Homo sapiens: one gene and its partners. The protein of the gene in region 3 purifies or fractionates together with the protein of the main gene of each other region. This does not show direct contact. Each region holds a gene or a part of one and is shown on either strand. Other genes may lie near its edges.

What was found.
Region 1: the proteins of SLC35E3 (region 3) and AMFR purify together in Homo sapiens (affinity purification with mass spectrometry; one large-scale study listed by BioGRID and IntAct). This does not show direct contact.
Region 2: the proteins of SLC35E3 (region 3) and VKORC1L1 purify together in Homo sapiens (affinity purification with mass spectrometry; one large-scale study listed by BioGRID and IntAct). This does not show direct contact.

What each region holds. Positions count from the first base shown.
Region 1 is NC_000016.10:56,405,046-56,408,545, forward strand, and holds part of AMFR (E3 ubiquitin-protein ligase AMFR), read right to left. Parts: intron 3,072-3,500; coding exon 2,919-3,071; intron 200-2,918; coding exon 159-199; intron 1-158. UniProt on the Homo sapiens protein: E3 ubiquitin-protein ligase that mediates the polyubiquitination of lysine and cysteine residues on target proteins, such as CD3D, CYP3A4, CFTR, INSIG1, SOAT2/ACAT2 and APOB for proteasomal degradation.
Region 2 is NC_000007.14:65,956,566-65,960,289, reverse strand, and holds the end of VKORC1L1 (vitamin K epoxide reductase complex subunit 1-like protein 1), read right to left. Parts: 3' UTR 732-3,724; downstream 1-731. UniProt on the Homo sapiens protein: Involved in vitamin K metabolism. Can reduce inactive vitamin K 2,3-epoxide to active vitamin K, and may contribute to vitamin K-mediated protection against oxidative stress.
Region 3 is NC_000012.12:68,759,536-68,763,266, reverse strand, and holds part of SLC35E3 (solute carrier family 35 member E3), read right to left. Parts: intron 3,228-3,731; coding exon of another isoform or gene 3,182-3,227; exon of another isoform or gene 2,876-3,181; intron 1-2,875. UniProt on the Homo sapiens protein: Putative transporter.

The DNA of each region.
Region 1 (3,500 bases), on a different chromosome or scaffold from region 3:
AATGAAGAGAGAAAACACCTTAGTAATTTACTGTTACTACTGAATTTGGTTTAACCATGTTGTAATTTAGTCCGATTTTTATATATTTCATACCTGCTACATCTTAAAATCAACTGTATGAGTAGGCCTCCATCACCTCCCTCCCCAATTTCACTCACCGTAAAATCACATGAGCAGTCCTCACTGTCACAAGAAGAGACTATAAAAAAGGATATTTTCTTTTTAGTAAAATGTAGCATTGCTCAGGCCAAACTTTTTATAAAATGATAAAAGACAAACATTTCTCAGTTCAATTAAAAAGCAGATTGTTCAAGTTTACCCATTATTTTATTTTCTCTGCTTCAAATTTCTGTAAAATATTTTTATGACCTAGAAACCCAACTTTTATTGAGGAAAAGTCCTGTTAATAGGTGACAACCAATTACACCTACCCCCCAGGAATCCCCCTACAATCTTGAGGTTTACCCTGGTAGTCTGACCATCAATTCTATTTCACACAGCATTAAGTCACTATCACTGATTACTTAGAAGGGTGATGCTGTAACTCCAAGTATAGTTCAGGTACTGCTATCCTAGACACGAGGACCTGCTCTCTCCCTAGTGCTTTGTGCACTCCCTTTGTCCACCAGCAGAAAAAAGAACGAAAGCAATCAAAAGCAAAATAAGGCCAGCCACATCACACCTTTAATCCCAGCACTTTGGGAGACCGAGGCAGGAGGATTGCTCAAGCTTAGGAGTTCAAAACCAGCCTGGGCAACATGGTGAAACCCCATCTCTACAAAAAATACAAAAATTAGGTGGGCATGGTGGCACGTGCCAGTAGTCCCAGCTACTTGGGAGGCAGAGGTGGAAGGATGGATTGAACCTGGGAGGTGGAGGCTGCAGTAAGCAGAGATCGCACCACAGCACTCCAGCCTGGGTGAGAGAGCCAGACCCCAGACCCTGTCAGAAGGGAAGGGGAAGGGGAAGAAGTGGAAGGGGAGAGGGGAGAGGGGAGGGGGGAGGGGAGGAGAGGGGAGAGAGAGGAGGGGGAGGGGGGAGAGGGGGGAGAGGGGGAGAGGGGGGAGGGGAGGGGGGAGAGGGGAGAGAGGAGAGGAGAGAGGAGAGGAGAGAGGAGAGGGGAGGAGAGGAGAGGGACAAAATAAGTCTCTCATGGCTTTTTTTTTTTTTTTTGTAGAGACAAGGTCTTGCTATGTTGGCTAGGCTGGTCTTGAAGGGTATTTTTTTTATTACAGAAATTGACGGCCAGGTACAGTGGCTCACACCTGTAATCCCAGCACTTTGGGAGGTCGAGGCAGGCCGACTGCTTGATCTCAGGAGTTCAAGACCAGCCTGGTAACATGGCAAAACCCCATCTCTACAAAAAAATCAAAAATTAGCCAGGCATGGTGGTTCATGCCTGTGGTCCCAGCTACTAAGGAAATGAGAGGATCACTTGAGCCCACAAGGTGGAAGTTGCAGTAAGCAACTGCACTCCAGCCCGGGCAACAGAGTGACACCTTGTCTCAAAAAAAAAAAAAAAAAAAAGATATTTTTCATTAAGAAAAAAAGTCCTCTTAATCTAGTAGAATAAAACTATTACATTATTTATGTTTTAGATTAAATTCCCATTTGTAAGTGAAAAATATTTTACAGGAGAGAGAAACACTATGAATGTAAGAAATGATTTAGTTTAAAATATCAAATCTGTAATATGATAAATTATCTTAAAAGAATAAACAGTAACAAGCTAAAATAAAAGTATATACTATAGTATGAGCTGACGGGCCTAAGTTAAATGTGCTTATTTTTAGGTATACCCTTTTCAAAGTTTGGATAATATTATATTAGTTGAAAGTTAGAGAATCAAAAAAAGGCAAACATAAGTATCATTCTAACTTTGCAATAAATCTAAAGCAAATAAGTCAGTGTAAATGGATTTTTCAACAGATTTTCTGTCAAGACGAAATACGGTTGTATATTTTTCATATACAGAAGTATTCACCTAAGATTACATATCTTATTATTTATATTAGGACTATTGTATTTTAATTACAATATTATAATATGATAATTAACATTATGTATTTAAATGTTTCTTTTCTAATTTTACTTACACTACTAAATGTACTCAAAAATGAATGCTATCAAACAGAAATAAACTTTAACTCTGCTCTACCAAATTCCCAATGAGTAGTTCAAATGTAGTGTTTTGATATTAGCCAATTAGCTTCAGTTTATCTAATATCTCATTTTTTAATTAATAATACTAATTATGGGTAAGATAAAAGTATTTTGCCTTTGGCCTGAAGAAAAGGCAAATATAGCCATTAAATATAAGGACATACAAACAATTTTTATTTCTTTTTTTTTTTGAGATGGAGTCTCGCTCTGTCACCCAGGCTGGAGTGCAGTGGCGCAATGTCTGCTCACTGCAACCTCCGCCTCCCGGGTTCAAGCAATTCTCCTGCCTCAGCTTCCCAAGCAGGTGGGACTACAGACGTGCGCCACCACGCCCAACTAATTTTTTTTTTGTATTTTTAGTAGAGACAGGGTTTCACCATATTGGCCAGGCTGGAGAATTTTTATTTCTACTGAACAGAAATTGGTATTTTCAGAAAGGTTTAAAAGAGTGAAAAATTTTTAAATCTTAAAATATTCATGAATAGACCAGATTTTTCCTTCAAAATGATGAGTACAGTTTATTCATTATTTTGTAAAATCTTTATACCCTACGTAAAGAAAGAGTTACATAAAATACCACACAAAAGCATTCAGTACCAGTACCCAACACACAAAAAGGAACTGAAATGCTTGTTAAAATGAAAGACCAAATATCCACCTGTCATTTCATGGGTGAAAATAACTTGTCAAACATCCAGCTTCCTTGAAAACAGACAGAAATACAATCTGAGCAAGTCCTGCATCCAGTATCTCACCTCTGCAGCCATGAAAGCCAAGGTGTGCATTCCGTGGGTGTAGCCGGTGATGGAGCAGACGGCCGCCAGTCCACAGCAGGAAAGCAGCATGGCAACCAACAGGGACAGGACTCGACCGTGGCTGCTCATCGGCGTGGTGGGCGAGAAGGAAAGCTGAAATGCACACAGTAGGAAACTGCTCATTCTTCTTCATGGAAGTGTTAAACTTCACTGAGAAATTCAAGGTCAATCTTGGCTTCTCTGCTTAGGGTTCTGTGCTAAGCACAGAAAAGCATCCCATTACTATATGGTCCTATTCTCCAATAACCCAAATATGAGCATGAGGTGATATTTAGAGATCCGTGTCATTTAATTTACTGAGTATAACAATATGCATTATATTTTCATCCCTTACTCTCAAAGATCCTCCTAGCACTGGGATTATAAACCTCTAGAAGCAATGTTCCGAGGGTATACAACTCTCTCCTCTCACCTTCAACAGGACTCAGGACAGTGCCTGTTCTGTTCTGTTTCTTTCTCAATCTTGCTCTAGTCCTCCTCTCTGAAATTGGCATTCCTAGTCTATTAGGGCTAGCACAATTG
Region 2 (3,724 bases), on a different chromosome or scaffold from region 3:
ATAGGGTCTTGACAGAAATGGACAGATGAGTGTAAAAGCCTATTGGCTTTATCATAACGGATGCCACTGAATGTGACAGGACCTCCTTAAACAACTTTGCCTACAAATCAGCATTCCATGCCTTTACACCCCAAAATGACGCTACCTGCCCCCTCCCAGAGCACAGTCTTTCCTTAAGGAATCTGTCCTCCCTCTCTTCCTGGGCTCCAGTAAGGCAAGGATGGTGCATCAATTCTGATTTGAAGTATACGCTTTGGAAAAATACTCCTTTTGGTGTCCAGTCAGTTGAAAGACAATGAACCAATACAGTTTGTTTTGTTTGTTTTGAGACAGTCTTGCTCCGTCGCCCAGGCTGGAGTGCAGTGGCGCAATCTTGGCTCACTGCAACCTCCACCTCTGGGGTTCAAGCAATTCTCCTGCCTCATCCTCCCAAGTAGGTGGAACTACAGGCATCTGCCACCATTCCCAGCTAAATTTTTAAAAATATTTTTAGTAGAGATGGGGTTTCACCATGTTGGCCAGGCTGGTTTCGAACTCTTGACCTCAGGTGATCTGCTCGCCTCAGCCTCCCCAGGTGCTGGGATTATAGGCGTGAGCCACTGTGCCCGGCCTCCAATATGGTTCTTGCTATAGAACTTGATTTTCCCCTCTCTTGTGGTTGAGCCCCGTGTCTCCACACAGACCCTCCTTTTTAGCTTTCCTGTGCAAGCTCCATGAAAGAAAGAATAAAGTTAATTTCATGTGGTTTTATTAGGCATCGTCCATTTTTTAAAAATGAGTGTAGTCAGTTCCAATTAGGAATCTAGAGCTTCTGTATTTTTTTTATCAACTTCTCTTTAGTTTTTCAAAGGAATCAAGTTTTGTGTTCCAGTATGTCAAAGTATAATGAATAAAACTTTTAGTTGACAAACATTAAGAAAAGTTAAATGTAATAGACACATTTAAATGGTTTACAAATTAGGGGCAGTCCATTGTTTTTTTTCTTGAGCTGGAGTCTTCCTCTGTCGCCTAGGCTGCAGTGCAGTGGCGTGATCTCGTCTCACTGCAACCTCCGCCTCCCTGGTTCAAGCAATTCTCCTGCCTCAGCTTCCTGAATAGCTGGGATTACAGGCGCACACCACAATCCTGGCTAATTTTTCTGTATTTTTCAGTAGAGGCAGGTTTCACCATGTTGGCCAGGCTGGTCTTGAACTCCTGACCTCAAGTGATCCACCCGCCTCTACCTCCCAAAGTGCTGGGATTACAGGCATGAGCCATTGCACCCAGTGGGGGCAGTCCCTTTCCACAGGTCTTGAGCTCCAGCACAGAACACACTTGTTCTATTCCGTGAAGTATGGCTCAGCTGTATTTCCAACGGATTCATCTTTCTTGCCGATGCTACCTTTTTAGAGGATTATACAGGGAGTATTCAAGGTAAGCTAAAGTAAAACTATGGAAAAACAGCTCATTAATACATTCTGAGTGTTCACAGAACTGTAGGCAGTGACACATTTTTGTCATTAATTCTTGACAATCACATACACCGTAAACCTACAGGAATTCCAAGAACTAGAGGTCTGAGGACTCTGAATCTTCTGCAAGTTACATATGATTTAAGAGAAAAAGAATCAACCCTGTATACCTTAGAAATGAGGTTACAGTATTGACTTCAAGAATATAAGGCTCCTACTGAGTCTAAAAAGACTTCGTTTCAGTTCTTTTGGAATGCAACCCTGCAGTTTAAGAATAATGGGAGCACAACTTCCACAGGTAACTTCTACATTTATTTTATACCAAAAAAGTTATGTGCAACAAATAAACATTCTTACATATTTACATTTGGTTTTATTTACCAGTTAGCAAAACAGTGCCTTAAATCTCTGATAAAGAGTATTTCTATCTAGATTAAAGGGGAAACCTGCCCAGTGAACTCCATTTTAAATGACTGTTTACTCTGGAGCTTAAAGCACTAGTAAGAAATATTTCTGATGGAACATACTACACAGATCATATACCTAATAAATACTTAGGCCATGCTTAATACAGTTTTATAACAAAATATTTCACCTTTTCTGGGCGAATTTGTAGTAAAAAATGTTTAACCAAGTAGCCGGGGCTCCCACCCTTGCCCTTTTTGTTTGATGGAAGGGTAGTTCTCACAATTAGAAACCATAAGTGCTGCCTGAGGTGTCTGAAATGTTTCACCCATGACTGTGTGTTAGAGAAAAAGACACGAGGACAGAAATTGCATATTAGGTCATTAGGTCTTTTTCCCCAAATAGGTTACCAGAAATCACAGTGGGTCTCCTTGTTGGCATCTAATAATGATCTTCCAAGACAAGATCTCCTGTCACTCTTGGTACCAATCTAAGTTGTGAAGTAATTGCTGAAGATAACTCTGTACTTTTGCAAATAGTCTTTTCCAAAACTAAATGAAAAACAAAAGTCAACAAATAGTTTTTATTTTTATTTTTTTATTTGAGACAGAGTTTCACTCATTGCCCAGGCTGGAGTGCAATGGCGCAACTGTGGCTCACTGCAACCTCCACCTACTGGGTTCAAGCAATTCTCCTGCCTCAGCCTCTGGAGGAGCTGGCATTACAGGTGCCGCCACCATGCCCAGCTAATTTTTGTATTTTTAGTAAAGACAGGGTTCCACTATGTCGGTCAGGCTGATCTCGAACTTCTGACCTCAGGTGATCCAACCGCCTCGGCCTCCCAAAGTGCTGGGATTACAGGTGTGAGCCACCATGCCCAGCCAGCAAACAGTTTTAATTTCACTGTAGTCTTGGTCCTCTTTGAATGCAGTCTCTCTCTTTTTTTTTTGGGGGGGGGACAGTCTCGCTCTGTTGGCCAGGCTGGAGTGCAGTGGCATGATCTTGACTCACTGCAACCTCTGTCTCCCGGGCTCAAGCAATTCTCCTCCCTCAGCCTCCCGAGTAGCTGGGATTACAGGGGTGTGCCACTGCGCCTGGCTAATTTTTGTATTTTTAGTAGAGATGGGGTTTCACTATGCTGGCCAGGCTGGTCTTGAACTCCTGACCTTAGGTAATCCACCCGCCTCGGCCTCCCAAAGTGCTGGGATTATAGGCGTGAGCCACCGTGCCCGGCCGAATGTAGTTTCTTTGAATGAAAATAGTCAATGCTTTGAACATCATTTGAAAGTAATGAATTTAAGGAGAGGACACATGTATGAAGGAACAGTGATTCTGGGCACACAGCTAGTTAAACCTGAGTTATTTCACCGGAAATTTACCTTTAGTGAGAGCAACTAGCTGTAATGCAAAACAAATGAAATCCTCCAAATCACCTAGATTCCCTAGAATTTATCATCTAACCCCAATTCCTGTTATTTCTTCAAATGATATTTGTGAACATCAAGTCAATAAATGGCTTCATTTGGAACAAATCACTTAAAAAAGATGAGGCATGGAATTACTGCTAAAAACAAATGTTTCCCCTCATCTGTCCTTTAACACTGGTGGCTAGTAATGCTGCAGTGTTCAAATATTCAGTCTAAAACAGGCAAAACAATCTTCTAATTTTGTAACACTGGTGATTCCCCCCCTCTTCTGGGCAGAATCGGAGGTATAGAAAGGAATCTGAATTCTCCAGGGCAAAAAACACCCAATTAACACCCACCAGGATTCTGTTACTGAGACACTGGCATTACAATGCTGTTATGACAGGCAGTACGTGTTCCTCTCTCAGTGAGAAAAAGGGTATTAATTCGACTGGGCCATAG
Region 3 (3,731 bases):
CACTAGAAACAGCCACCACTCTGTGCATTAGTTTCCTCACTATATAAAAGGGGTTTACCTCCCACGGTTATTGTAAGGATTAAATAAGTTAATATACACAAAGCTTCTAGCATATAGTAAGCACCATATGTGCTAGCTATAATAACATTACCAACAGCAGTACTTATGTATCATAAACACCTGCTTGGTGCTTGACACATTCTCTCAAATACAACCACCCAACATCATAGATCGTACTTCCTCCACTTCATACATTTCATAAGTGATCAGAGTGAGACCCTGAGAGTTCCCACACTAGTCAGGCCCACAGAGAGTGGCAGAGCTCAGTGTTCACACCTGGACCTGTCTGACCTCCAAGCCCACCTAAGCAGCCTGGAGGTTCCCGCTGGGCAGCAGCAGTGCCTCAGGAGAGCACAGGCTGCGTCACCAGGGGCATATGGTGGCTTGATCCCATGAAGGTGACTTCCTGAGACACAGAGGATCTTCCCAAGGTTGTTGGCAATAGTCATAATGTTTTATTTTCAATTATGAGCTATCTTCATGTGCACTGGCTCTAACACTTTAAATTTCTTTACTCCTCAGCTTCTCTTTTAAGTATATTTATACGAGAAGGAAGTCAAATTTAAAGAAACTATTTATGAATCCTTTTGTAAAAGCAACAACAAAAGAGCAGTCTACATGTGGTATTTCCAGTTCTGCACTTTACTCCAGGCAGGCTGTCACCCCAACCCCAACCCACTTTACTCCAGGCAGAATGTTCTGGTCAAACCCAGTGCCCTCCACCTCACTCAGTCCCTCAATGGTGACCAGTCTCCTTGAACTTGGCCTGCCAGCGGCATCTGACACAGACACCGACCCCGCCTCCTCCTCCTTCCTCTGGTTCTGTGCCAGTCTCCTCCTTCCTTCCACCTCTGACTGCTCCTTCTCATCCTCCACCTAGTTTCTCATCTCTCTGAATTCCAAATACTGGACTCAAACCCAACACTCAGTCTTTGGACTTATTTTCTTCTACTTGTCTGCTTGGTAATCTCAACTAGTCTCATCACTTTAAACCACAGCTTCATACTGCTCACTCCCTGTGATGCCTCCTGCTGAGACGTCACCTTTGAACCCTGACTTGTTTATCCAAAACTGAGCACCTGGCTGGGCACGGTGGCTCACACCTGTAATCCCAGCACTTTGGAAGGCTGAGGTGGGAAGAATGCTTGAGCCCAACAGTTTGAGGTTGCAGTGAACCATGATCGCGCCACTTCACTCCAGCCTGGGTGACAGAGCAAGACCCTGTCTCAAAAACAACAACAACAAAATACTCCCCGAACTGAGCACCTTATCTTCCTCCCCAGCCCCAAACCTCCTTCTGGGTATCCTATCTTAGTTGATGGCAACTCCATTCTACCAGGTGCTCAGGTCAAAAACCATGTAAATCAGCCTTGTTTTCTCTTTCTCCACATCCAACTCGGCAGCAAAACCTGTTGGCTCTTCTTAGAAATATTTCCAGAATCCAATCACTTCTTACTATATCCACTGCTATCATACTGGTAGCCACTATTACTTCTAAATTAGAATATCGTAGCAGTCTCCTGAGTTTCCTGTGCCTCTTTCAGTCCAGTAGTTCTCAACCATGGGTGATTCTGCTTTGTGGGCAATCTTTGGAGGCATTTTTGGTTGTCACAACTGGGCAAAGGGTATGTATGCTACTGGCATCTGGTGGTAGAGCCCAGGCCTGCTGAAAACATCCTACAGTGTACTAAACAGGCCTGCACTAAGAACCGTCTAGCCCAAAAAGTCAACAGCCCAGAGGTTGAGAAATCCTTCTTAAGTCTATTCTCAACACAGGAGTCCTGAGTGATTCTATGATTTATTTTATTTTAAAAAACTTTTTGTAGAGACAGGGTCTTACTATGTTGCCCAGACTGGTCTCGAACTCCTGGGCTCAAGGGATCCTCCTGTCTTGGCCTTCCAAAGTGTTGGAATGACAGGTGTGCCATTGTGCCCGGCCCACTGAGTGCTTCTATTAGAATGTATGTAAAATCATGTTACTTCTCTGCTCAAAATGCTAATGGCTTCCCATCTTACTCAGTTTAATAGTCCTTACATAAACGCCCTACTCAATTCAGTTCTGTGTTACTTCTCAGCCTACCACATTCCCTCCTTTGCTCAACCTGCTCTAACCACACAGGCTTCCTTGGTTTTTTTACGGCCTCGCACCTGCTGTTGCCTCTGCCTGGAATGTTCTTTCCTCCTGATCTGCATGGAGCAACTGCATTTCCTTCAGGTCTTTACTCAAATGTCGTCTTCCCACTGATGCCTTCCTGACTAGCCCTGCCTAGAACTTCAATGCTGTCTATGACATTTCACATTCTCTTCCCCGCTTTATTTTTACTCCTTGGCAGTTAACACTATCCAACACTGTATATAAATATTTAATTGTTTTCTATTTCTAGTCTTCCTCACCAGAATTCAAGCCTGTGAGAGCAAAGACTTTTGTCTATGTGGTTCATTACTGTATCCCCTGTGCCTGGCACACAGTAGATGTTCAGTATATAAATATTTTTATATCAATGACTGGTTTAGTGGGTATTCAATAAATACTTATTGAATAAATTAATGTTTTAAATCAGAGCACATATTTGGATGCCTTGATTGGGTAGTATGATGTACAAATTTGGGGACTAGACTGCATGGGTTCAAATCTGGACATCCCATTTGTCAGCTGTGTGCCTTAAGTGAGTTGGTTAACCTCTCTGTGCCTCTATTTTTTCTATAAACAAAAATGACAGACTTTACCTCACAGAGCTGCTGTGAGAATTAAATGGACTAATACATACAAAATGTTTCTAACAGTGTCTGACACAAAATAAATATTTGTTAAGTATTGGTTTTCTAAAAAACTTATCGTTGTTGTTTTTTATTGATAGTTGGCAAATATCCTACTTGTTTACTTCCTGGGGAAATTCATTTGTTGCATTTGCCTAAGGGTGGGGGCAGAGTGAAATGTGAAGAGAAACAGGATGACAAGCAGAATGGTACAAATGGACAGTTGAATTTGACCTTTAACATATAACTTCATTTCTATTTTTTCTTTTTTTGGTAGAGATAGGTTCTCCCTATGTTGCCCAGGCTGGTCTCGAACTCTTGGGCTCAAGCGATCCTCCTGCCTCGGCCTCCCACAGTGTTGGAATTACAGGCGTGAGCCATGGCACCCGGCCAATGACTTCATTTCTTGACTTGAAATAATATTGAGAAAAACAGGCACACCCATATCCAAATAAGTACAAACACATACTCCATAGCCAGATGCCAGTGGCCTGAAATTATCTTTTGTTATTTGTTAACCATTCCTCTACTTTGTTACTAGAAATACCTGAAAATTGTTTGAAAATCCAAACCTCCACCTCACTATTCATTCAAAAAATATTTAATCTCACTGTCTGTAAGAAATGGTACTCTGAGTTAATTTTTGTAAGGGAAAAGGTCACCTATTACATAAGAAAATTCAGAAACATTCATGACACAAAAAGCTAACCCACTTCCTCAGTTCATATTTCTTTTTTTTTTTTTTTAAGACAGAGTCTTGCTCTGTTGCCCAGGCTGGAGTACAGTGGCACAATCTCAGCTCACTGTAACCTCCGACTCCCCAGTTCAAGCAATTCTTGTGCCTCAGCCTCCTGAGTAGCTGGGATTACAGGCGTGCACCACCTTACCCAGCTAATTTATATATTTTTTGTAGA